2 linked regions of the Homo sapiens genome follow. The protein of the gene in region 2 interacts with the protein of the main gene of each other region in a biochemical or structural test. Each region holds a gene or a part of one and is shown on either strand. Other genes may lie near its edges. The genes, in order: PPARA and MECR.

Region 1 (16,902 bases), on a different chromosome or scaffold from region 2:
TGGTTTGAGTGACGACCAGGGACAGCTGCTGTGGGGCCTGCCAAATGAGACAAGAATCTCAATTTCTTGGTGAAAGTGAGAAATCCAGCAGTCACAGGAGTTTTTCCAGGCATGTTGGGAAAGAGAGTACGAGGGGTTTTCTTCTAATCTGTTAGAGTGATGACAGGTATTTATACAGTTTAGAAACAAAGAGATGCCAATTATACCATTATCAGGAGGACAAGGTGTCAAGTAACAAAAATTCAGGTTTCTTTTGAAGGCCATTTTCACAGGACAGAGCAACAATTTGTGTGTGTGTTGGGTTGGAGGTGTCCTTTTTTCTTTTTTTTTCTTTCTTTTTTTTTTTTTTGAGATGGAGTCTCGCTGTCACCCAGGCTGGAGTGCAGTGGCTTGATCTCAGCTCACTACAACCTCCGCCTCCTGGGTTCAAGCAATTCTCCTGCCTCAGCTTCCCAAGTAGCTGAGACTACAAGTGTGCACCACCACGCTCGGCTATTTTTTGCATTTTTTTTTTTTTTAGCAGAGATGGGGTTTCACCATGTTGGCCCGGCTGGTCTCAAAATCTTGACCTCAGGTGATCCACTTACCTTGGCCTCCCAGTGCTGGGATTACAGCGTGAGCCACTGCGCCCGGCCCATAGCAACAATTTCTAAAGGAGTCTTTTTTTTTTTTTGAGATGGAGTATTGCTCTGTTGCCCAGGCTGGAAGATCTGAGCTCACTGCAACCTCTGCCCACGGGGTTCAAGCAACTCTGGTGCCTCAGCCTCCCAGGTAGGTGGGACTAAGCAATTCTGGTGCCTCAGCCTCCCGAGTAGGTAGGACTACAGGCACACTCCCACCAACGCCCAGCTAATTTTTCTATTTTTTTAGTAGAGATGGGGTTTCACCATGTTGGCCAGACTGGTCTCAAACTCCTGGCCTCAAGTGATCCACCCGCCTCGGCCTCCCAAAGTGCTGGGATTACAGGCATGAGCCACCGCGCCCAGCCTAAAGGAGTCTTTTAAGACTCTTGTTCTCATTATACTTCCAGGGATAGGGTAGGACTATTCCAGAATAATTGGCTATAGTCACGAATACCCTCCCACTGTCTCTGTTGCACAGAACAAGAAGATGGATATTCCTGGTTTTGTTCTCAATTTAGCCCCTTATTAAATACTCAAGAGTAGTATTTAATATTTAATAAAAACAAGTTTTATATGCAGAGAAAGTTCAATTGCTGTAGGTACAGAGAAGGGGATATATGCCCTTCAACTATCTCAACACTTATTGTTAATTATGAAGACTTTGCATTTTTAAGGCCTGCTTCTGGAATTTCATTAGTTAGCACTAGAAACAAAATGCAAGCCTTTAGACTTCCATGTTACTGGCAGAAATGGAGAACGGGGCGAATAGGATATTCAGTGAAGTGGGGTACATAAGAAGTTATTCTTCCACAGTACCCCCTTTTGCTGCTATTAGCAATATTTTAGCTCTAGATTTTCATCTGCATTCAATTCCTTCTGATTTTCAGATTTTCTTTCACAGTCTTCACCTAAATACACAATGTACAATATCTGATATTGTGATAATCTTTTAAGATTACATCCATACAACATTTTATAAGTATTGCCACAACATATATGCATTTTTCCCAGCAAGCCCACCCCTAGCATCTGTGGGGCCTAGGGCAGGACTACAAATCTCTGTATGTCTAAATATTTAAAAGCTTACGAACTGTTACATAAAATATTTATATCCACTTACCTGGACAAATACACCTTCATAAAACAGAATTCAAAATTATGTGTAAAACTATGGTTTTAATATAGCTGAAAATTGGCAAAATATTAAAGATAGCTAATTTTTATTGTGTATCTCTAGGTATTATGTTGATGGGCCACTAATGCTTGGATGGGTAATAAAGACATACATAATCACATAATCCATAAATTATGTTATTTCTTCTATAAATGTTTCTCTTGTCTTCATTTCAGAAGAATGACTAATGAAGATTTTCACGCAATTGCATTCTTTTGACAGTAGTGCCAAATTAGACAAACTTTCCTGAGTCAGTATACTTTCAGATAGTTTTTAGTTATTTCAATTGGGAGAAACTTGACTCTGCTGAGTGGTAACGAATTATGAATAAATTCTTAAAGCGTTATATGTAGAACTGAATCATGACTGTTGATATCATGTTTAAACAGTGTAGAAAGGGTGCATATGAAAAATTATGATTGCAGAAAATATTACACAATATTTTCATTATATAAAATAATGTTATTATTTCACCATTATCATCGTTTCTTACATTTAGATCCATACAGGATTTCTTACGTTTTTCTTTTACGTTGTTGGGGTATTACCAAGAAAACTGAAAACTGCGGTAGATTACTCACTTTGTTTGAATCTCTCTCTTCAGTACAATCTACACCTTGATCTACCATCGCCGGAAAATTGTCTCTATAGAAGTTAGTTTCAGAATCATTCATCCATAAATCTTTTTCTTCAGACTCCAGCAAATGCTTCTAGTTCCGATTTTCTTACATTGTACTTTAATGTCATTTTAGTGCTTATTTCATATGCAGTTGCTTTTTGGAAACCATTTTCTCCTAAAACTTTATGCAATATTTTAAATCCTTTTGGATTCTTTAAAACGTTTTCTAATTGTAATAACTGGACAGCTCAAATACAAAATTAACTCTATTTTCTGCCAAAGACCACGATTTGCTCTTTGAATGCTGCCTATTATTTCACTTAACTCTTTTAACGCATCTCATGTGTTAACCTGTCTACAATAAGTCAAATTGCTTTAACAGCACTCATGGGGTTACCATCATTGTATCTGAGGGTAGCCACAGGTCAAATTCAAAATGCTTCAAGATGTTCCATCTTTAGACACCGCCAGAAACAAACAAACAACCCAGTATGTCATCTTTGAAATGATCCAACGAATCGAATGCCGTTGCTCTAAGTACAGTGGAGGTCATCGAAATCCAGCTGCTTGCTAATCGCTTGCTAATTTCTGGGGCCCCTCTTGCCCAGGTCTAAGAGTGGTTCTGGTTTCCATTAGTGCTAAAATGCCTTCTATATCCTTACTTCTCAATTCGCCAAAGGAGCAAGTCCCAGACCCCAGCCTGCTGCAACTGGGCAACATTCCTACAGATGTGGCTTGACAAACCAAGAATAAATTCTGGTCTCTCAGGAACAGAGACGAAGCACCCCTCGGCCTAGGGAAAGGTCACAGAGGGCCCCGTAACGCAACAGCATGTGAAAGGCTGCCGGCTGGTGGCACAGGCAGACCTTCTCCCGCGTGGAGCAAAACCCTCAAATCTTTGGGGGAAGGAGGGTGGCCATCCTGTCGTCCCCAAAGCACAGGTGAAGGCCCGCGGCGGCTGGGGCGAGGGACTCGAGCTGGGAGGATCGGGGCCCACAGGCAAAGCCAGGCCGGCTTCAGAGTCCGGGCCCCTGACCCCAAGGAAAGGTGCCTCTCACACACCGGAGGCTCCAGGAGTGGGGCGGGCATTTCGGGTCCAGGGCACGGCGTGTCAGAGGCCACGGGCGGGAACAGAAGGAAGCAGGTGTGGCTGGTGCCTGGGGGCGAGGGGCAGCGGAGAGGCCCGGGAGGCTAAAGGAGAACGCGGCGCAGACCCGAGGGGCGCCGCAGGCGACGTGGGCTTTGGAGGAGCAGGGACAGGTCCTGAGACCCCGTTGGGCCGACACACCCCCTCCTGCATGCGGGGGCAGACGTCCCGGTGGGGTAGACTGGCAGCCTAGTCCGCGGCGCGGGAGGGCAGGTGGGAGACTGGAGGCGCCCTCGCGCCCCTCAGCTATCCGGGAGCCTCGCGCCGGCGACCTCGACCCTGTCGAACCCGGCGGAACACTCAGAAAGAAGCTGAGCGCCTCGCAGCGGCCAGGACAGCGGGCCAGGCCCGCGCGCTCCCGCAGCGCACGGCCAGACGCGACGCCCCTCAGCACGGAACCCAGCCTCGCGGACTACCCCGAAGCTCAGAGCCACATCCCGCGCAGAGGACCGCGGCGACCGGAAAAGCAAGGCAGAGGCGGAAAACCACCGCGAGGTCCCGCCTCCCGCTCCGCGCCTGCGTCTGCGGCTGCACCGGGGTTGGCCGGGCCGCGGTGGGGCGGGGCCGCTCAGGCGCCTTGGACGCGGAGCCGTGGGACGAGGGCGGCGGTGAGTTCGAGGTGGCAGAGTGACTGGGGCGAGCGTGCTGTGGCCCTTCCCTGCGCTGCCTCAGGGTGCCTCCCGCTCGCCGGGACTGAGTTCCGCGCCGGCGTGGCCTGCTGGGTTCCAAGCGCCAGGAGTCGGCGCAGCCGCTCTCAGCTTTGGGGACGGGACCGAGAAGCGGGGTGTGGGCCTCACGGGACTGTCCCCCCTGACCTCGGGCAGCGCTGGGGCGAGAGAGGGCAGGCGGAGGCTCGCGGGGACCACCAGCATCCCCGGACCCTCTCAGCCGTCCCTGTTCACAGGCACCGCCCCCAGGAGCCTCGGCAGGGGCCTAGGACGCCCCGGCGTGCAGAAGAGAAGCGGGATCAGGTTCACGCACACCCGCGATCGATCGTAACTTTTGTTTTGAGACAGAGTCTCGCTCTGTCGCCCAGGCTGGAATGCAGTGGCGCGATCTCGGCTCACCGCAACCTCCGCCCCCCCAGCCCCCGCTCCCCAACCCCCCGCTCAAGCGATTCTCCTACCTCAGTCTCCTGAGTAGATGAGATTAGAGGCGCCCGCCCCCACGCCCGGCTAATATTTTATTTTATTTAATTTTAATTTTTATTTTTTTGAGAAGGAGTCTCGCCCTGTCGCCCAGGCTGGAGTACAGTGGCACAATCTCGGCTCACTGCAATCTCCGCCTCCTAGGTTCAAGTGATTCCCCTGCCTCAGCTTCCTAAGTAGCTGGGATTACAGGCACCCGCCACTATGCTCGGCTAATTTTTGTACTTTTAGTAGAGATGGGGTTTCGCCATGTTGGCTAGGTTGGTCTTGAACTCCTGACCTCAGGTAATCCGCCCGCCTCTGGCTACCAGAGTGCTGGGATTACAGGTATGAGCAACCACACCGGGCCAGACTTAACTTTTAAAGTCACTGGTAACCCATGCTTCCTGGAGTTGCATCTGGGGACACCCAGTGGGGAAAGCCATCGCATTTGATACGCCTTTATACACCACGCTCAGTTCAGGCGAGGGGAGGTCACAGCCAAGAGCTAGGGGCCAGCTGATAATGTCGTACTTGATTCCATAGTCAAAGAAGGAGCTGGGTAATCAGCAAAATTGTAACTTTTGATGAACCCATCAGATGGCAGCCATTTAGCCAGAAATCTAAGGAAAGAGAGGCCTCCAAGACCCAACCATGAACATGAGAAGGGGGTTCCATACAAGCAGATAAGAAAACAGTTTTTTTGTTTGTTTGTTTTTTGAGATGGAGTCTCGCTGTCTCCCAGGCTGGAGTGCAGTGACGCGATCTCGGCTCACTGCAAGCTCCGTCTCCTGGGTTCACGCCATTCTCCTGCCTCAGACTCCCATGTAGCTGAGACTATAGGCGCCCGCCACCACGCCTGGCTAATTTTTTGTATTTTTAGTAGAGGCGGGGTTTCACCATGTTAGCTAGATGGTCTCGATCTCCTGACCTCGTGATCCGCCTGCCTTGGCCTCCCAAAGTGCTGGGATTACAGGCATGAGCCACTGCGCCTGGCCAAGAAAACAGTTCTAATGTCCACACCACGTGTGGACTAATGTGAGGGCATAGAGCTTCTAGGAGCAGCAGAAACAGGAGATTTTGCACCCACTCTGGGCCCTTCTCCACCAGCGTTCACTGGGGGCTTGTGGTAAAGAATGGGGCAGAGCAGGAGACCGGAACGCTTTTACCGTGGTGCAGACCTGGAAGAAGAGATGGGTGCTCTGGCTTGATCCTGTCTGGATCCTTCTCTCTAGCAGTACAAAAACCTTAAACCATTGGAATATGGACAGCAAATCCTGTCACTCTGGGCACCGGTGAAAACCTGTTTCAGCTGGGGATAGAGAAAAGGGTACGGTAGGGAGGCAAGAAACTGTGCTAGGACTATATGGTTAGGGTCTTCATAGCTGGGAAAGGGGCAGGATTCCTGAGAAAGCCTGTGACCCAGGGACACCCCATCTCTTGATCTTGCAGATGGCGTCCCATGTAGAGTGCCGTCCTCTGGGAGTGTTTGAGTGTGAACTCTGTACCTTGACAGCTCCGTACAGCTATGTGGGACAGAAGCCCCCCAACACCCAGTCGATGGTGTGAGTGCATGCCTTTTGGGCCAGTGCCGGGGAGGCCTGTGCCCAGTGCTGGTTGGTGGGTGGTGTGCCTAGGTCTGACAACTGTCTCAGGTGTGGAGCTTTAGACCCCACCCTGGCCAGGCTCTGAATGCTTCTGGTGTAATCTCTGGAGGCCTGGGCAAGGCTTGAGGTCTGACTCTTCCAGAACCTTCCTCCACACCTAGCCCAGAGTCCAATACCTGCTCTAGCTGTGGGGGAGCAGCTCAGCAGCTGGGGGACCTGTGGTGGCCTCCCCCTTTGGGGCTGCACCCTTGCCATGACACTTTCTTAATGGGAGGCCTGTCTCCCCTGCAGACCTGGATTAGAGCCAGTGGGTCAGGGGGCTTATCTCTTGACCTCCAGCTTGTCCTTCATCAAATGCCACTTTGTTGGAAAGCTGGCCGGTGTGTTACTCACATGGGATGCAGTGGCAGGGGCATGGCTTTTTCCTTCTGGCTGTCGTCCCTCTGCTGACCAGGAGCCTGAGTGTCATCATGTCACCCTGGGGTCTCATTCTGATGTGTAGCATGAGGCCAGCTGGCTTCCAGGGGCTGTGAGGGTGTGGCTTGGGGTGTAGGGAGGCCTGGGGTATTCAGGTGGCAGCCTTGTGCCCCCACTGTGGTGAATCAGTCAGGGTCTGGGGGCCCATGTTGCAGCAGCCCTGCTTTTGGCTGAGAACAAGGGGTTCTCTCTACCATGGCTGTTACAGAGGTGAGAGCAGGTTCAATTTCAGTGCCAGTGTGGCCCCCAATTGCTGATCCTTTCTGTCACTGCCCTGCAGCACGGGTGGCCTAGTCCCCTGCCCTGATGAGCCCACGCAGGTATGCAGGCCCTGCAGAGGTGCAGGCTGCTGCTGCCTGGCCATAGGTCATGGCTGATTTTCCGACGGCAGAGATTTGGGCTGTTCTGACGCTGCATTCACTCTCCTGCAGCCTCCTGGAGGAAAGCTATGTCATGAAGGATCCCTTCACCTCCGACAAGGACAGATTCCTGGTCCTCGGCTCGTGCTGCAGTTTGTGCAGCAGGCTGGTGTGTGTGGGCCCGGTGGGTAAGCAGCGTGGGCTGGGGCCACCTGTCCTTGCTGTGGTTATCCTGGAGCTCTCCCTGGGTAGGGAGGGCTGGGAGAGAGGGAGCAGCGGGTTCACCCCATTATAGATGGGGCCCCTCAGCTGATGAAGGGGAGAGGTGAGAGGGCAAGCTAGGGTCAGTTAGAGGGTCTCAGCCTGGTGTAGGAATGGAAATAGGTAATTGGTGGCTCTGCACCCACCCCAGTGGCCCCTCAGGGTTCCTCCCCTTCCCACCAACAGTGCAGACAGTCCTTGTGCGCCCTCTCACCAGGATGGTGACTTACTTTCTAGATGTTCTTGGAGGGATCTCCAGGAGAAGGGACTGTCCTTTCATGAGCACTTGTTGTGTGCCAGGTCCTGTGCTTGGGACCTGTTTTACTGCTGAGGCTTCATTCAGTCCTGCCCCTTAGTCAGGTAAAGCAGTATTATATTCCACCCATTTTATAGATGAGGGAACTGAGCTTCAGAGAGGCTGGGTGGGCCAGGTTCACCTGGGTAGCTGTAAACCCAAGGACGGATGGAAGTGGAGCAGCATGGCTTTCACAGCGTGCCCAGTGTACTCAGAGTGACCCCAGAGTCTGAGAAGTCCCTGAGCATCTGCCACAGGTTGACACACACAAAGGGGAGCTGTATCAATAGCCAGGGGGACGAGATGGGCCAGGGTGGGAGGAGCCTCCGCAGTGTGGCATGGGAGTATCTGAGGCTCATGGAGGAGCTGGTGGTCCAGGAGAAGCTGGGAAAGGAAGACTGCAAAGGTGGGTGGGCCAGGTGGGGAGGTGGAGGTCTTGAATGCAACACCTTGGCCTTGGGCTGCTCTTCGTGAGCAGCGGGGTGGCGGGGGTGGGGGGCGCACGCAGGTACCACAAGTCTGCAGCTTTCTTTGTTTAAACAGTAGGTTGTTAGTGAGCGGATCTCCATGGCGAAGGGTCTTTTCTAAGAACTGCAGGAGGGCAGCCTTATGTTTGCGAGCACACTAAGCTTTAAGAACAGACAGACACCAAAAATAAGAGTGGCCTAAGTAAAGCAAATAGTTATTTACTTACTTTCTCCTATGTAAGAGTCCAGAACTGGTGGCCTTGGCTGGAAGGGCACCCCTGTTGTCTTCAGCAGAGTCTCTATTTGGGTCCCTTGTGGCTGTGGAGCTCCCACCATCATATTTGCATCCCAGGCAGCGGGAAGGGACGTGAGAGCACAGTCCATGCCTTCAAAGGGCATGACCAGGAGGTGGCACACACAGTTGCTGACGCCCCTAACCAGCCTGAGTCACATGGCGATGCCCAGTTACAGAGGGGGCTGGGGAATGTCATCCTTAGCCACGTGCTGTGCACCGTGATGAATCTCGGGAGTTCTAGTGTGTAAGAGAGAGGAGAGCGGACATGGCTGCACGGTTCTGGCCTCCTGCCCAGACTAGCTGGCTCGTCCATGGCGTCTTTGGTCTGTGGGGCTGTCCTTCCTGTCCCCTGCCGCTCCCAGCACCAGGTGGCCACTGTTCGTGCTGCGATAGCTGGGACGGGAGGACTCTGGGATTTTCGGGGCATGGCCTGTGCTCCAGCTTTCCATTGTTGTCACTGCCCCGTGATGGAGCAGAGCAGGCCCCAGAGTCTTTCTGTCCCATCCCAGCTGTTCCCACCCAGGGTAGCCCAGGCCTGCATTGCTTTTCTCCTGGACACCCTGCCAGGCCCTCAGGCCTGGCTCTCCCTCTTGCTGGTCTAGCTCTGGCCACCTGCCCACACTGTGCATGCTGGGGCCCCAGCCCAGCCCCCCAAGTGTGGGAAGGGCTGGCCCCTGGGAGGAGCTGCACCATGTTCCCAGGATACTCAAGCCTCCATCCTTGTCCACTTCTTTAAGGAATGCAGTTTATTCTACTCCAAGAGATTCTGCCTCCCTTGTGTCCGGGAGAACATCAATGCTTTTCCTCAGGAAATTCGGCAAGACTTGGAGAAAAGGAAAGCTCCATCAAAGAGGACCCCCAGCCAGCCCGGTTCTCGGACGTGAGTGCAACTGGGGCTAGGTCATCGGGCGGCACCCTGCACAGAGCTCCTGGGCCAGCCTGCGCCAGGGATGCTGCTGAGCTGGGAGCCGCCATGCCTGGCCTTGTTTCTGGACCACTGGGAGCAGCACTGCAGCCCAGGGGAGCTGGAGTCCAGCTTGGAGCAGCCACAGGCCCAGGGAGCTGTAGCAAGAGGGTAGTCCAAAGGCAGATGCCAGACAAGACACAGCCAGGAACCCGGCCAGGTCCCCCCACATGCCCCTCAGGGCCCAGGCCTGAGTGAGTGCTGCTCAGATGTGACTGAGAGGGATGACCTCCTTCAGCAGGGCAGCTCCTAAGAGGCTGCGTGCAGGTGCGTGTGGGGGGAGATGCCACACTGTGTCGGGGCCATGGTGCACTGTAGGTGGCTGCAATGGTCTCTCTGTAAGGAAAATCACTGACAGCAGCTCCTTCTGGACCCAGTCTGGAAGGTCTAGAGGGGGATAGAATTTTTATTTCATATCCTTATGTGGTGCTTGGAAAATGTTTTTAACCTTGACCATGTATTATGTTTATAATTAAAAACCCAAAGAACCAGCTCATGTTTGGAAAAGGAATCTTCCACTGAAACATTTGGATACCCGACGTTCTCCCTGGACACTTGGCCCGGCAATAGTTGGGGTCTCCTGGGAAGCTGAGTGCTGGCTTCTAGCCTCTCCAGTTCCCTCAGACTCTGTCTTCAGCTCGGGCCCCTCCGTTCTGTCTCCCTCGACTCCAAGTCAGGAATACCGTGGGCTTCCTGCCCTCACCCCACACCTCAAGACCATCCCACTGCTTGCCTGCTTGCCCCCTGCCATCTCGCACTCAGCCCTGGGTGCCTGTGAAGCCTGGCCCCACTGCCTGCCGGGGGTTCCTGCAGCACCCCCCTACTCCAGGCTCCCCATCTCCCTGAAGCTTCCAGGGTAGCAGCTGGTGGGACACTGATCTGTGAGCTCTGGAATGTCTGCTTAGAATTCTGAGAGGCAGGAACTGCTCTGTCTTTGTAACTACTCAAGGCCAACTGTCACATGAAGGAATGAATAAAGAGTTTTTACTGACTTGTGCACTGATGGACTTTAAGATGCTCACTGCTTTAAAAGTTCCCGTTGTATGTGACTTCAGACGAAAGGATGTCGTATTCCGGAGCCAGATTGTCCTTGATCCATTCTGTATGTTGAAGGACACAAAAGGGACTGTGCAGGTGGAGACAGCCTCCATGAGGGGCGCAGGGACTGTTCTGGCGGAGGGCGGACCCCACAGCTGGGGACTTGGTTCTTTTAGACCAAACAGTCCATCTCGCAGCATCACTCAAAACTCACCAAAAAATTTTAAAAAATAGTTTATTTTTTAAAACCATTAAGGCAAAACTGTACCCTGAAATTAACTCTGTACATTCATCAGTCTTACAGTAGGACATCCCAAACACAGAAGTTCCCATATATTCAGGATATAAATCAATACATGTGGTCAGTTCAGTCTCCTAATAGGAAAACGAAGACCCAAGATTTTTTTTTAAAATTAAGGTTATTTTATAGCCATTTTCTAATTGCCTGGAACCAATCAGTTCATGTGACTAGAAAAATTACTTTCGCTCTTCTCTGCACATCCTTGATTCCGGAGGTCCTGGATGCCCGCTCCCCCCACCAGGAGAGAGGTATGAAGTTGGAGAGAGGATGCTGGGGCCTGTGTGGCAGTTCCTACTTTGGAACTGCACCTTTTTAGCACAAATAAGAAGCTGTAAGCCCCAAAATACTGAGAGTATAAGGCACTCACTAGTAGAGCACATGTGGAGAGTCTGGGCCCAGTCCTTGCTCTGGGATCTGCCTCATTCTCGCGTGTGTTTCTGTCAACCCTCTCTCTTAGGGTTTTAGCCTAATGGCATTATGAATCCCAGAGGGTGTAACCAATATGCACCAAGAAGTTTTGCCAAGTTATTGGAAACAAGGTATGGGGAGACTCACGGGGTCTGTGGTTTCTGCTTTCTGCTTTGGGTTGGGCCACCTGGAGGATGCCAGAGAACCGGCACGTGCAAAGAATTTCCATCAGGACATTTCCAATTGCCAGCGTTCTTTGGTAATAACCCATAGGTAACAGTTCCCTGAAGAGCAGACAGCTATTTACTAAACAAGAATAGTGAAGGGTCTTTAGCGAAACACTGTTGTATGAAATCGGTGGCCTCTAATACGGAGTCTAAGGCCTCGCTGGTGGAAGTGACTAGAGATAGCCTCTCTTGTGCTCTGTGCATATACAGTGTGGTAAAGGGAACAGATTTCCACATTGAAAGTAAATTCTGCATGGCTCAGGAGAAATGAAGAGCTGTGTGTGTGTGTGTGTGTGTGTGTGTGTGCACGCACACGTGTACGCAGTGTATTTTAGATGTTTGATTTCAGCTTCCTTTGTGTTTCCAATAGGGTCAAGAGCCAGGCTTTTAAGAATATGAGTCAATTAACACTGATTTCAAAAGAATCCAAATGTTTCTTATTAAATGAGTGATTGTAAGTTAGTAAAATATTTGTATTAGGATATTTTTCAAAAAGTCAAATCACAGTATTTAAGATATAGCTATTAACGTAGTTCTTTTTACCACACAATGTAGAAAAAAGTGATATTTAACATGAACACTGTAACTTTACCAAAAAGAGTACTACATGGTCTTCATCTTTTGTGAGGTACATGAGAAAAGGAACTGACTGTGCCTTAAAAAAAGTGAAGTTGCCAAAAGTGAGTGATTTTATTGTGAAATGATCGGCCAGTCACTCGTCTCCGGGGCCTGAAGGCTGACCCTCTCTGACTTGAGGCACAGCCAAGGCCTGGGGGTCCGGGGAAGGTGCCCGACTGTGTCCCAGGGCTGCGGCATGCCCCCCCACGCCCGGTCACCACTTTTCCTAGGAGCCAGGCTGCGTGGACTGGGGGCCTGTTTGTGCACCAGTTTGCACGGCACTTTATCAATTCATTAAATGAATGGATTTTGGATGCTGGATGTGTGGGCAGAAGAGGGGCAAGAGAAGAGGTGGCAGGTAGACTCCCTCCTCCTCACATTTGACCCAACTAGCAAACTTAAAAAAAATAAAATAAAATAAAAGCTGACCCCCCTCCCCAGGTCTTAGTTTGCTATCTCTGATGTAAAAATCAATTATTTTTTCTCTCTTTTTTTTTTTTTTTTTTCAAATAATCCATCTAACAGCCATGAGACCACTCAAGTATTTGAGGTCATCAGCTGCGTCCATCAAGACATGATATTGAACATGGACACCATCTGGTCTGTTGGTCTGTTTTTGTTGGCAAAGGACTCCAAAAGGATGCAGTTGTATGTGTTTCAGCTGAACCACATACCATAGCTCCTCTCCCCTCACAAAAGGGTTTCTCTGGGGGGAGAAAAGTAACTGATTATACCTCTCATGTCTCAAACTGAAATTCTGAGAAGCAAATGGTCAGTTGAGGGCCCCATTCCAGATCTGCCGGGACGTCCTCAGATGTCCAGAGCTGGCAAAAGGTGGAGCAGGCAGCAGCCTTGGGCACCAGCCTGTCTCTTTCTGTTCTGATAAGGCCACACACATGGCTTTTTGTGATAAGCTTCCAGCCCATGCCACTGAAATAACGTTTAAGAACCTGCTGCATTTCACAGAAATAGCGTAATGGAAATCATTATGTAATTAAACAAAGCATGAAGCTCATTATCTTTTTCTTTTTAACAAAACCTTCAATTTCACATTTTAGTGTACACTGTGGTTTCCAGAGAAATATATGGATCTCCTATATTCTGAGTCAGACCAAATTTATTGCCTTTATTCTTACCCTAGTCTATGGGGTCAATAACCGTTTTCCTGAATGCTGTCAAAATGGTGCCTGAAAATATCTAAATCCCAGCAAAAACCTAGGCCTCAACTTTGGAACCCAGTCATAGATCTTTCTAGGCAGAAGGCCTCTCAGGGGAGTACATGCCCTGGGCAAAGGCCATGGACTCGGAAGCAGGAAGGTCACGGGATGATTTAATGGCATCGAATAATCCTTTGGTGAGATGGCCTTTGTTGCCCTCAGCACAGTCGAGGCAGGTTAATCATTTATTTGCCACAACCCTTCCTTGCTCTGTAAAGCTGCAGCACAACTGGGTGGTCCGTATAGCCTTTTCTGCCACAGATGTTTGTGGACATTTCACTTCCAGACTGTGACGTCTGAAGATGGGCTTGAATGACAGCAGCCATCATCGCTGCCATTAGGGAGGTGCACACAGCCCCCTTTGCTCGATGCAAATATTTGGTTGGTAAGAAATTCCAGTGCAGCTAAACAAGTCAGCTTGGACTGAGTTAAGAAAAGCTGGGCCACTTTTAACATGAGAAGAGCAGATACTTCCCCATGCTTGGCAATGCCAATGCCGTAAAAATGGGAAGTGTTGAGACAAACCTCCTGTGGACGAGAGGTTCCCGTGGACATTTTTAACAATCATGAGCCTTCAGGTGGTGGCATCAGTCTTCATGGGTGACTTCTATGGACAGCATAATTTTCTTGCCTCTCCTGAATCTATACTACTTTTCTGAATGTGAAAGAAGGTCTAAAAAGTAATCCCTCGGGATCCCTGCATCAGGCCAACCATGCTAACTGCAGAGGGTGAGGCTGGCAGTCCAGGAGATGGGAGCTGAGGACAAGGCTGCAGGCCCCTGGGTCACCTATCCTTGCACTCACCAGGTGCAAGAGTCTAGAAACAACAGGGAGGCTGCAGGAGGTGGAGAAAGTGCACCGTGCCTGGGGACCAGCGGCTAGCAACACCCAGCAGGCCCTACATCTGGAGGCTGGTGTTTTCATTTTAAAATGGAGGCTGATTTGCTGTTACCCCCTCAAACAGCTGAGGAGACCACAGGAACCTGCTTTGAAAGCTGCCCAGAGCCATGGCATCCATAGGTGGTGAGCTGTGGGCATGTTCTCCTGGTGGCATCTGCATTTTGAAAGGCCACACTGTTGAAGAGGTACCAGCTGTTGAAGGTGGCCAGCTTTCCCCAGGCCCCAGGAAGCCCCCCACCAAAGGCCAGGCTGTCGGTCAAGCCAGTCTTAGCTGGGTGCATTGGGCTTGCTGTGTTGAAGCAATGAATCTATTTTAAAACTGGAGTTCAGTGAGACATTTCAAAGACAGGTGTGGCCACTGGATCAGGACCAAAAAACCCTCCATCATGTATGCGGCTGGTAAGTAGCAGATGTGCGCAGAGATACAGTGGTTTGAAAATGGGAGTTTGAGGTGGGAAGTGCTTGGAACCAAACACAGAGAGGCCCAGGTGCAAGTTCAGAGGAGACAGACCTTAGGAAGTCGCGGTTTCATCAGGGCTTGCTTTGGTGCATCTGTTTCCATCCGCATCTGGTAGGGTCTCTCTGAGGAAGTGGCTTCCTCGTGGCCAGCAGGAAGAGGTGAAGAGGAGAGGGGGTGCTGGGGGCGGTGCGGGGAGGGGGGTTTGTCACTGCAGGCCGGGACCATCGGCCGCTTCTCCTAAGCCCAAGACGTGCCCAATGTCAGTTTCACCAAATTGGGGTAGCACCTTTTGCACGTATCTTCAAGGCTCCCTTTACACAACCGAAGTTCCTTCCAGACGTCATACGAGATGCTGCTCCCCTGTGTGTGGGCAGGCTCAGGTGTGTGCACTCAAGGAGTCTCCATCCCACCTGCCCTAACTACAGAGGCCACAGGCTGTGCGCCTCAGCTCTAGCATGGCCTTTTGCAGGGCCTGCTGAGGTATTTGTTACATGGTCCATTGCGGGGAAGTGGTGGCTAAGTTGTTGACTTCTCACGGTATAGCAAATCTCTCATTTGTACCTTGAGCTCTTGCTCGGCTCTGGGAGGCTGCCCTGTCCCTGGAACCTCCAGACAACGCTCCAGGAAGGCTGTTTCCCTGGGGGTCTAAAATGGCCCAGTGTAAGAAACGTATCAGCGCAGCAGAAGGGTGCCTTGTCTGCTCTCTAAATGCGAAACAAAACAAAACACAGCTCTTTAAAACAGGGACAGCTCTCCTGGGCATCCTTGAATGCTGAGTTCTGGGTTTCTGCCCCACTTCACGTCCATTATGTTCGTATAGCAAACACACCCGTTAGGAAGATGCTTTATACTCTTCTCATCGGAGCTGGAGGAAGGGTCAAGCGGAAACAGGCAAGCGAGGTGGGAAGAAAGGCACCAGCAGCCGTCAGCCCGTGCTCCCAGTCCCGCTCCTGCCGCTGTAACTGGAAGCATCTTGTTTTGACAATTCATCCAAACGGCCTTAGGCCCTGCACAGTTCTCCGGTCTCTGGAAGTGTGGTGGGGACGGAATCCAACATGTGGGACACCCAGCTGGAAGTGCCAGGAGGTGGGAGAGGAGGGATGCGCCGCCAGGCTCCCCTGGACAATGGAGAGGCCTGCGTCTGCTCCCGAGCCACAGCCAGCTGGCACACAAGAGGCACGTCTGGGAGGAGTCCCTCGCCGTGCCTTCACCCTGGTCAGCACGGTAGACCAAGGCTGTTAGGTCTCTGAGGACTTTGGCACTTTTTGCTATTAAAAGTTGAGAAAATGAAAAACCGTGTTTAAACAATGACTTGTTGAAGAGTGGGTAAATTTGGCGACTTCCTACATTCGCTGCCAGAGGGAGCGGGTGCCACACATGTGCTCCGACACTCCTGGAATCTGTCCTGACATCTCTTTTGTTCTTTTGGCTGATGTCTGTTGAAACCCAGCAAGCAAGAAATGCACTCTGTTAATAGTTCCCATTTGAACTGGGGCATAATCAGCCTATATTTGAGTATTGATGCCCTGAGAAATCTATGATTAGGTGACCCAAAATATTCCAGCATTGAGTGGCAATTAGTGGTTTTGTTATTTAAAGAAATAGGAATGCCTGATTTCCTTCCCTATCAACACAAGAGACCAATGTCGAGTGACTTTCAGCCTGAGGTCACGGGTGTCTCCATTCTGGCTTCACCAGAGATGTCCCTGGAAGTCTTGCTGGGCCTTAAGGAAACCAAAATGCTCACCATCGCTGCTGAGTGTCCCGGGAGCTAACATCGAACTTGCCAGTCAGCTCACTGTTACTGCTGAAAGCCTGAGACGGGGAGCTATTTTAAACAGGTTTTATGAAAATGTAAACAGAACAATGACTTCTCTGAAAACCATGAGGCTCACTTTCCTGGACCACATCTCCTTGAATGGCACAGGGTACATCAGAGCGAGCAGCTGCAGGGTCGCTGGGGACAACACAGGCTTGGCATTGGGCTCCAGCCCCTGGATCTTGTTGACACAGGGGCTTCTCATTTTAGGAAATAATACTGAAACGGATGCACCATGACAGACACTCAAAGGCTAGCTTCTTTCTGAATTAGGATGGCCACTTGGCTGGTGGCATATATGGAAACACTTTTATTTGCTTTTGGTTCCTAAGACACTTGGGCAGACTGCCCGCCGCTGCTGCTGCCATTGCTGGCCAACAGCCCCTTTGATTGCATCTTTTTTTTTTTTTTTTGCCGGGGTGGGAGAGGGTGGAATCTAACTCTGTCACCCAGGCTGGAATGCAGTGGTGAGATCACAGCTCACTGCAGCCTCGACCTC
Region 2 (8,505 bases):
TTTGGGGCTAGATTTTTTTTTTTTTTTTGATATAGGGTCTTGCTCTGTTGCCTAGGCTGGAATGCAGTGGCATGATCATGGCTCACTGCAGTCTAGACCTCCCAGGCTCAGGTGATCCTCCCACCTCAACCTCCCGAGTAGCTGGGACTACAGGTGCACAGCACCATACCTGGCTAATGTTTGTATTTTTTGTAGAGATGGTGTTTCACCACGTTACCTAGGTTGACCTTGAACTCCTGGGCTCAAGTGATCCGCTTGCCTTGGCTTCCCAAAGTGCTGGGATTACAGGTGTGAGCCACCGCGCCAGGCCTTGGGTAATTCTTTGTTGCAGTAGACTGTTCTGTGTCCTGTGGTGGGTTTAACAGCAGCACTCACTCTGCCTGCTAGATGCCAGTAGCAACCTCCTTCATAAGCTGTGATAGCCAGAAATATCCCCAGACATTGTCAAATGTCTCCTGGGGGTAAAATTGCCTCTGGTTGAGAACCACTGGTATATTGTCTATGTCTCCAGTTAGAAGGGCAGTTCCATGAGAGTGAAGACCCCACGTCCAAGTTCCTCAGGGCCCTGATGACCTCAGCCTGGCATTCACTCTTCCATGCAGCTGATCCTCCCCAAGCCCTGGACTGGGCCGCAGGCTACCTGAGAAGCACATCAAAGCGTTTGTTCTACAGGACCCTCGTCTGTGGGCTTGTGCAGCTTGGGGCCAGGGATGGTGGCCTACTGGCCTTTGCACTGCCAGTACCCACCCAGGCTTTGCTTTCAGGGTGGTCAGAAAATGATTACTGGGGGAACACATGACAGAAAAGCAGGAAGGGGGCCTCTTGGTGCTGTGAGCTGACCAGTGCACAGTGTTGGTCCTTCTCGACAGGGATGACTTCTACTTTTTGGAAGGGAGAGTTCAGACTTTATTAGATACCTTAAGGCTGGCCCTGGGGAAAACCGTGGCTGGCTTCACCATCCTCCTAATAGGAAGAGGCAGTGAGGAGAACAGTAGTCTGGGGAAGGTGGGAGCCCCAACTGAGGGGCCTGCACCCAGCCCCTCAGATCCGCCTCCCCTCCCATGTCACTCCAGCTCTTTTGGGATGATCACATGGTGAGAATCTGCTTTGAAGATATGAAGGGCTTCATGGAGGCTTCCAAGGCAGACTGGTAGTCCTGCAGCGGGACCTGGGAGCAGGCAGGGGCTGTGAGCTGGCCTCGGCGGATGAGATCGCACAGTGTGAGGATCAGCTCCTTGAACTGGTCTGCGGGAGGTTGGAGGAAATCAGACAAGAGAACAGCAGCTGGGGCTTGGTGAGATGTGGCACGGGGCTGCCCTATGGGCAGGAGCTGGCACCAAGCTCCAATAAAGCCTTGAGAGTCCTGGCTGTGCCAAGGATAGGGTGGCTGTGGAGGCAGCCTGGTCCCTGCCTGTCTTTAGGACAGTGAGGTCAAGGTGGGGAGAGGGGAACATAGGAGCGGCTCTAGGGGCTGAGGGGCAGACAGGCAGAGACCACCCTTCAGAGTGGTGGCTAAGATGGCACAGACTCACAGAACCTGGCCACAGTGGAGACAGGAGCACTGAATGGTGGGAGGAAAAGGATGGCGGAGGCAGGGAGGCCAGAGGAGGCCCAGAGAGGGAGTGGGTATGCCTGGCACGCCAAGTGATGTGGAACAGTTGAGCTCTGCTCAGGAAATGGAGCTCTCCCTGAGAGCCCAGGACTCCCTTAGAACCCCACGACCGGACGCCACCAACATCCCCTTCCTGGGCCTGCCTCCTGCGAAGGACCCTATATGGTACAGGAAGTTGAGAAGTGAAGGCCTCGGCTGAGAAGTGTTTTTCCATAGACATAAATTCATTCAGCCTTCAAATCTAGTCATCTATACTGGCTCCTCAGTTGCCTTTAAGCGTGAGTCTTGTCTGGGTGTGGTGCCTCACGCCTGTAATCCCAGCACTCTTGGAGGCTGAGGTGGGTGGATCACTTGAGCCCAGGAGTTTGAGACCAGCCTGGGCAACATGATGAAACCCCATTTCTACTAAAAATACAAAAACTAGCTGGATGTGGTGGCGTGTGCCTGTGGTCCTAGCTACTTGGGAGGCTGAGGTGGGAGGATCACCTGAACCGAGGAGGTTGAGTCTGTAGTGATCTGTGACCACACCACTGCACTCCAGCCAGGGCAACAGAGCGATACCTTGTTTCAAAAAAAATAACCCCCCAAAACAGCAAAAAAACCCATGAGTCTGAATGCCTTAATCAGGTTTATAAGGCCTCTGTAACCTGGTCACAACCCACTCACCCAATTTTCCAGCCCCAGCTCAGATCTAGTGCTCCAGGTCGCTCGGAACCGCTTCAGTGCCTAGTTGCACGTGTGATTTTCGATATTTTCTGCCTGAAACACTGCCTTCATGCCACCACCTTCCTCCCCTTCACTTGGATAACTCCATGTTATTCTTTGTCCTGAGTTTGGAGATCCCGCTCTGGGGAGCCAGTCCTCCAGGAGATGAACAGGGAGATGATCTGTTTACATCGTGCCTCATACCTCCCTGCAGGGAGGTGACTTTGGGCACGCTACTTAACCACTCTGAACCTCAATTTCCTCCTCTGTCAAACACGGCTAACAAGAGTTTAAACTTAGGACATTTAAACTGAGGCAGAGATTAAGTAACTTGCTCAAGGTCCCACTGCTGGCTAGGCAGAACCTCTATCCAGTAGTGTGGAAGCAGAATTTGAACCCAGGCAGGCTGGCTCCAGAGTCTATTCTCTCTGTTTGGCTATCCATCTTTCCCCACTGTCAGCTCTTCAGGACGGGGGCAGTGTCTGTCTTGTTCTGCGCCCCTAAGACTAACCCAGTTTAGTCCAATAACTGTTTGCTGACTGTAGCTGGACTAAGGCTATTCTCTTTGATCCTTCTGTGGGGCTGGGGACCCAATCACCCCTCCAGGGCTCAGAATAGCTGGTCATTTCTGCTGCCATTTTTAGGCACTGCCCTCATCTGTGACTCTTGGCACTGGGCCATGCACTCACCTGGACTGTGATCCTTCTTCCACTGGGACAACCAAAAGCCTCGAAGTTTGAGATCCTTAAAAATGAGCAGGCTCTGCAGACACAGGAAGGACATGCTGGGCTCTGAGGGCAAGAACTTCAGGTACCGCTTAAGGGTACAGACTCCCCTCCAGGAACGGGGCATTGCCTAAGCTTAGACAGCTGTCGTGCCAGGGGATGTGGCCTGGCTGAGGTGTCTGGCCCGGCTCCAGGCATGCCTCCCTCTGCACCCAGCTTACCACAGAGGCTACGACGGGCTGCTTGGCCATCCCCCCATAGGTTACCATGGTTCCTCCACGCCTGAAAAGTCCAAAGAGAACAAAGAGTGGATGCAAGGCAGAGACAGAGCCCTTCCTGAACCTGCCATGGCGCTTCTACTCCAACCCTGGTTCCTTTATAAACCCTGCTCTCAGAATCTCTGGGAAAGGTTGAAAAATACAGATTCCAGCTGGGAGCAGTGGCTCATGCCTATAATCCCAGCACTTTGGGAGGCTGAGGCAGGTGGATCACTTGAGCCCAGGAGTTCAAGACCAGCTTGGGCAACAAAAGGAGACCCCATCTCTACAAAAAAAGTACAGAAAATTAGCTGGGCAAGGCGGCATGCCTGTAGTCCCAGCTTCTCAGGAGGCTGAGGTGGGAGAATCACCTGAGGCCATGAAATTGAGGTTGCAGTGAGCCCTGATCGCACTACTGCACTCCAGTCTGGGCAACAGAGTGAGACCCTGTCTCAGAAAATAAATGAATGAATGAATAAATAAATGCATGCTGGGGATGGCAGCTCACACCTGTAATACCAGCACTTTGGGAGGCCAAGGTGAGAGGATTGCCTGAGCCCAGGAGTTTGAGACCAGCCTGGGCAACATAGTGAGACCCTGTGTCTATAAATAATAATAAAAAAAAATTAGCTGGGCACGGTGATACATGCCTGTGGCCCCACTCAGGAGGCTGAGGTGGGAAGATCACTTGAGCCTGGGAGGTTGAGGCTGCAGTGAGCTGAGATTGCACTGCTGCATTCCAGCCTAGGCAACACAGTGAGACCATCTCAACACAAAACAAAACAACCAAGAAACCAGATTCCTAGGTCCAATCCCAGACTCAATGAATCAGGAGACGAGAATGTATATTAAACACACACACACACCCGCTCTGGATGACTTGTATGTTTAGCCAGGATTGGGAATCCACTGATCTAACCCATCCAGTCAGGCTTTGATTAAGTGCTGAAAAGAAACATGCTCTCCCCAGATGAGCTCGAGGCCTGAGTTCAGCCTTGGCTCTGCTCTCACTTACAGGTGTCCGACCTAGGGTGATGCAGTGAAAATGGCCCAGACCTCATCTCTTCATCTGCCAGTGCTCATTCTAAGAATCAACGTGAGGAAACAGCTCTACAGATAAGGAATGATGTGGACGGTGCAGGGAACAATGACAAGCATCTTCTCACTGCAGGAGGTGCCTTCTCAGTACCTGCTGTCTGACACCCACACCCCCATGTCAGCTGACATACAGGATTGAGGCTAACATAATTTTTAAGTGAATAAGCCTGGAGTTCACTTGACTTAACCTATGTTCACCTCCCCACTCCCTGGCTCTTCTAGGAGTCTGTTGATTAAGGATGACCTCAGGCACATTTGGGGACAACACAAGGTAGACTTTCAAAACTACCAAATGGAAGGAGCTGCTGTCCTAGGGCAGGTACTTCTGTCCCTGAGGCTGCTGGGTAGTTTGGTCTTAAGTGCCCCTTGACTGCCACCTGCTGTAGAAAGTAGCTCCTGGGAGCCAAGCCCTCTCTCTTCTGTATCCCTGCTGCACTTCATCTAATCAGACTAGCTGACACTTACCAGGCTTCTACTATGTGCCAGGCACAGTTCTAAGCATTTTGCATGCACTGCCTCAGGGAATCCTCGTAACAACCTTGTTTTAGAGATGAGAAAGCTGAAGTCCATCCGTCATTTGTACAGCAATTTGTATATCGCCCAGTGTCCTTTAGACCAGCGGTCCCTAACCTTGTTGGCACCAGGACCGGTTTCATGGAAGACAATTTTTCCATGGACTGGAGTGGGGGAGATGGTTTTGGGATGAAACTGTTCCGCCTCAGATTCTCAGGCATTAGATTCTCATAAGGAGCATGGGACCTAGATCCCTTCCCTGCGTGCTTCACAATAGGGTTCACATGCCCATGAGAATCGAATGCTGCCACTGATCTGTCAGGAGGCGGAGCTCAGGTGGCCATGCTCGCTCACCCACCGCTCACCTCCTGCTGCGTGACCTGGTTCCTAACAGGCCACGAACTGGTACTGGTCTGCGGCCTGGGGGCTGGGGACCCGTGTTAGACCACCCTTCAGAGGCAGAGGGTTTATATAACCCCCATTTTACAGATGAAGAGACGGAGGCCTGGATTGTTTTTCACGTATTGCCTAACTTTCCACAGGCCCACAGCTAGTAAGTCACAGAGCAGGGGCTTGAACCCAGCCATTCTGGCTCCAGTGCCTACACCCGTAACAACGCTTCCCCCTGCAATGACATTGGGATTGAGGTCTGCCGCAGGGGTTGTCTGTCAGGTATAGGGCTGAAGCGGTGTGCTCAAATGTGGGGTCAAGCCTGGCTCTCCTGCTGCCTAGACTTTGGGACAGGTACTTGACCTCTTTGGGCCTTGTTTTTTTTTGTTTGTTTGTTTTTGAGACACACTGTTTCTCTGAAGCCCAGGCTGGAGTGCAATGGCACGATCTTGGCTCACTGCAACCTCTACCTCCTGGGTTCAAGCAATTCTCCTGCCTTAGCCTCCCAAGTAGCTGGGATTACAGGCACCCACGACCATGCCTGGCTAATTTTTGTATTTTTAGTAGAGACGAGGTTTCACCATGTTGGCCAGGATGGTCTCGAATTTTTGACCTCAGGTGATCCACTTGCCTCGGCCTCCCAAAGTGCTAGGTTTACAGGCATGAGCCACTGCGCCCGGCCTGGGCCTCATTGTTTAAAAGTATAAAACAGAGGTTAGAACTGCACCCCCTGTCTAGGTGGTTGTGGGAAGGGTAAGTCAAGCGCTGCACACAGTCTGGTGCATGGTGAATACTCACCACAGTGCTCTGGCCACGTGACTCACCTGCTCATCAAGCCTGTGAATTCTCAGAGGGCACATCAGTGTCGCAGCCCTCTCTGTACCTGGTAGCTAGTAAGTGCTCAGCAAGTATGCGCTAGCTGAATCCGTACTATTGAGGGGGTTCCTGCTTTAATTAGGAAGTGTCTTTTTACACACACTCTAGCTCAAGAAGCTTTTATTTTTATTTTTTGAGACGGAGTCTCCCTCTGTCGCCCAGGCTGGAGTGCAGTGGCGCAATCTCGGCCCACCGCAAGCTCTGCCTCCGGGGTTCACGCCATTCTCCTGCCTCAGACTCCTGAGCAGCTGGGACTACAGGTGCCCGCCACCACACCTGGCTAATTTTTTGTATTTTTAGTAGACACGGGGTTTCACCGTGTTAGCCAGGATGGTCTCGATCTCCTGATCTCGTGATCTGCCCGCCTCAGCCTCCCAAAGTGCTGGGATTATAGGCTTGAGCCACTGCGCCCGGCCTAGAAGCTTATATTAAGGGAAAGAAGAATGGAAGGACATGCATTAATATTGTCAACAGGGCTTATCCCCCTTGGTAGTGGGGTGATAGGTAACTTTTTTTTTTCTTTTTTGAGATGGAATCTCCCTTTGTCACCCAGGCTGGAGTAGAGTGGTGTGATCTCGGCTCACTGCAACCTCCACCTCCTGGATTCAAATGATTCTCGTGACTCAGCCTCCCAAGTAGCTGGGATTACAGGTGCCTGCCACCACACCTGGCTAGTCTTTTTGTATTTTTAGTAGAGATGGAGTTTTGCCATGTTGGCCAGGCTGGTCTTAAACTCCTGGCCTCAAGTGATCTGCCTGTCTTGTTGGGATTACAAGCATGAACCACTATGCCTGGCCAGGTAACTTAAAAAAAAAATTAATTTTTTTTTTTGTAGTGATGGGGTCTCACTATGTTACCCAGGCTGGTCTCGAACTCCTGGCCTCAAGTGATGCTTCCTCCTTGGCCTCCCAAATTACTGGGATTATAGGCATGAGCCACAGTGCCCAGCCAACAGGAAACTTTTATGCTTAAGTTTTCCTTTGCACTTTTACATGTTTTCAAAATGTTTTGTAATAAGCATAATGTTACCTTTAAAATTAGAATCTATTTTAAAAGCTAATACAAATTTTGAAAGGTTAAATAAGTTAGGACTAAGTGACTTTTTCAGACATCCCTAGGTTATAAATCCTTGACTATTCCTCTATGGCAGGCAGCTTAGCAGTCTACTTCTGGGGTCCCTTGGAAAAATAAAGCTGGATAGGCCAAAATTTTGGTCATCTGCAAAGGGGAAGGCTGAGAAACCAGTGCCCAAATAGCTGGATGACTTTGGTCCTAGTTTCCACTCAACATTGTGCTGACCTGGACTTGGCTCGAACTGGCGATGGGACTCAGTCACTTGATGGTCCTCCCAGCTAAAGACCTGGAGAGCTCTGGCGAGCTGGACCTGCAGGCCCAAGGGACTTACGCTAACTGCCGCAGCAGCTCTGTGGAGCTTTTCCCACCAACACAGTTGAGAGCAAGCCGTGGCTGGGGCATGTCCTGGAAAACAACAAAAGTGCAGTGAGGGAGCATCCCCGCTCTACATATGGGGTCTGAAGCTTGCCCAAGTGCTGTGTTAAAAGGAGGGAGTAAATGAGATGTTTATGCCTTTGTTTGCGTGCACGTACTTATGTATATGTGTGTGTGTTTATGCCTTTGAACTCACCTTTTTCTCTGCTTAGGAAGTGTCTTTTCTTTCTTTTTTCTTTTTCTTTCTAAGACAGGGTCTCGCTCTGTTACCCAGGCTGGAGTGCAGTGGTGCAATCATGGCTCACTGCTACCTTACCCTCCTGGGCTCAAGCAATCCTCCCACCTCAGCCTCCCAAGTAGCTGGGACTGCAGATGAGTATCATGATGACCAGATAATTAAAAAAAAATGTTTTTTTGTAGAGACAGAGGTCTCACTATGTTGCTCAGGCTAGTCTCAAACTCTCAGACTCAAGCAATCCGCCTGCCTTGGCCTCCCGAAGTGCTGGGATTACAGGCATGAGTCACCTCATCCAGCCAAGAAGGGCCTTTTCTGTAGCAACTTAATCCTGTTGTCCATTTTAGGACCTGGCAGAACTCATCTTCTCTGGGAAAGAATAGGCAAAGGGCATCTGCATGCAGTTTGGTGGGTTTCAGCTCCCTGTGTGCCCCCCTTTTCAGTTCTTTGACTCAGCTGATATTATATATGCTGATCTACTGCTTCAGAAATGTTCGCAAGAAGCGCATGCTCTTGAGTGTGTGTCTTTGGTTCCTCCAGATGGTTCAGTGAAAAGGGGCTGAGGGTCTGGTCACTTACTAGGCATGTTGTGGGGTGGAGGTTCTGGAAGGTTAAGAGGCTTTGAGTTCGGAGAGACTGAGGCCA

The links.
Region 1: the proteins of MECR (region 2) and PPARA form a complex in vitro, tested with the Homo sapiens proteins (one study listed by BioGRID).

Annotation. Positions count from the first base shown.
Region 1 is NC_000022.11:46,237,525-46,254,426, reverse strand, and holds the end of PPARA (peroxisome proliferator-activated receptor alpha), read right to left. Parts: 3' UTR 10,672-16,902; downstream 1-10,671. Other genes in the region: CDPF1 (cysteine-rich DPF motif domain-containing protein 1), read left to right, coding at 6,143-6,255, 7,206-7,321, 9,189-9,613. UniProt on the Homo sapiens protein: Ligand-activated transcription factor. Key regulator of lipid metabolism. Activated by the endogenous ligand 1-palmitoyl-2-oleoyl-sn-glycerol-3-phosphocholine (16:0/18:1-GPC). Activated by oleylethanolamide, a naturally occurring lipid that regulates satiety.
Region 2 is NC_000001.11:29,192,935-29,201,439, forward strand, and holds part of MECR (enoyl-[acyl-carrier-protein] reductase, mitochondrial), read right to left. Parts: coding exon of another isoform or gene 8,440-8,505; intron 7,656-8,439; coding exon 7,582-7,655; exon of another isoform or gene 7,476-7,581; intron 3,325-7,475; coding exon 3,264-3,324; intron 3,109-3,263; coding exon of another isoform or gene 3,080-3,108; coding exon 3,007-3,079; intron 1,246-3,006; coding exon 1,088-1,245; 3' UTR 1-1,087. UniProt on the Homo sapiens protein: Catalyzes the NADPH-dependent reduction of trans-2-enoyl thioesters in mitochondrial fatty acid synthesis (fatty acid synthesis type II).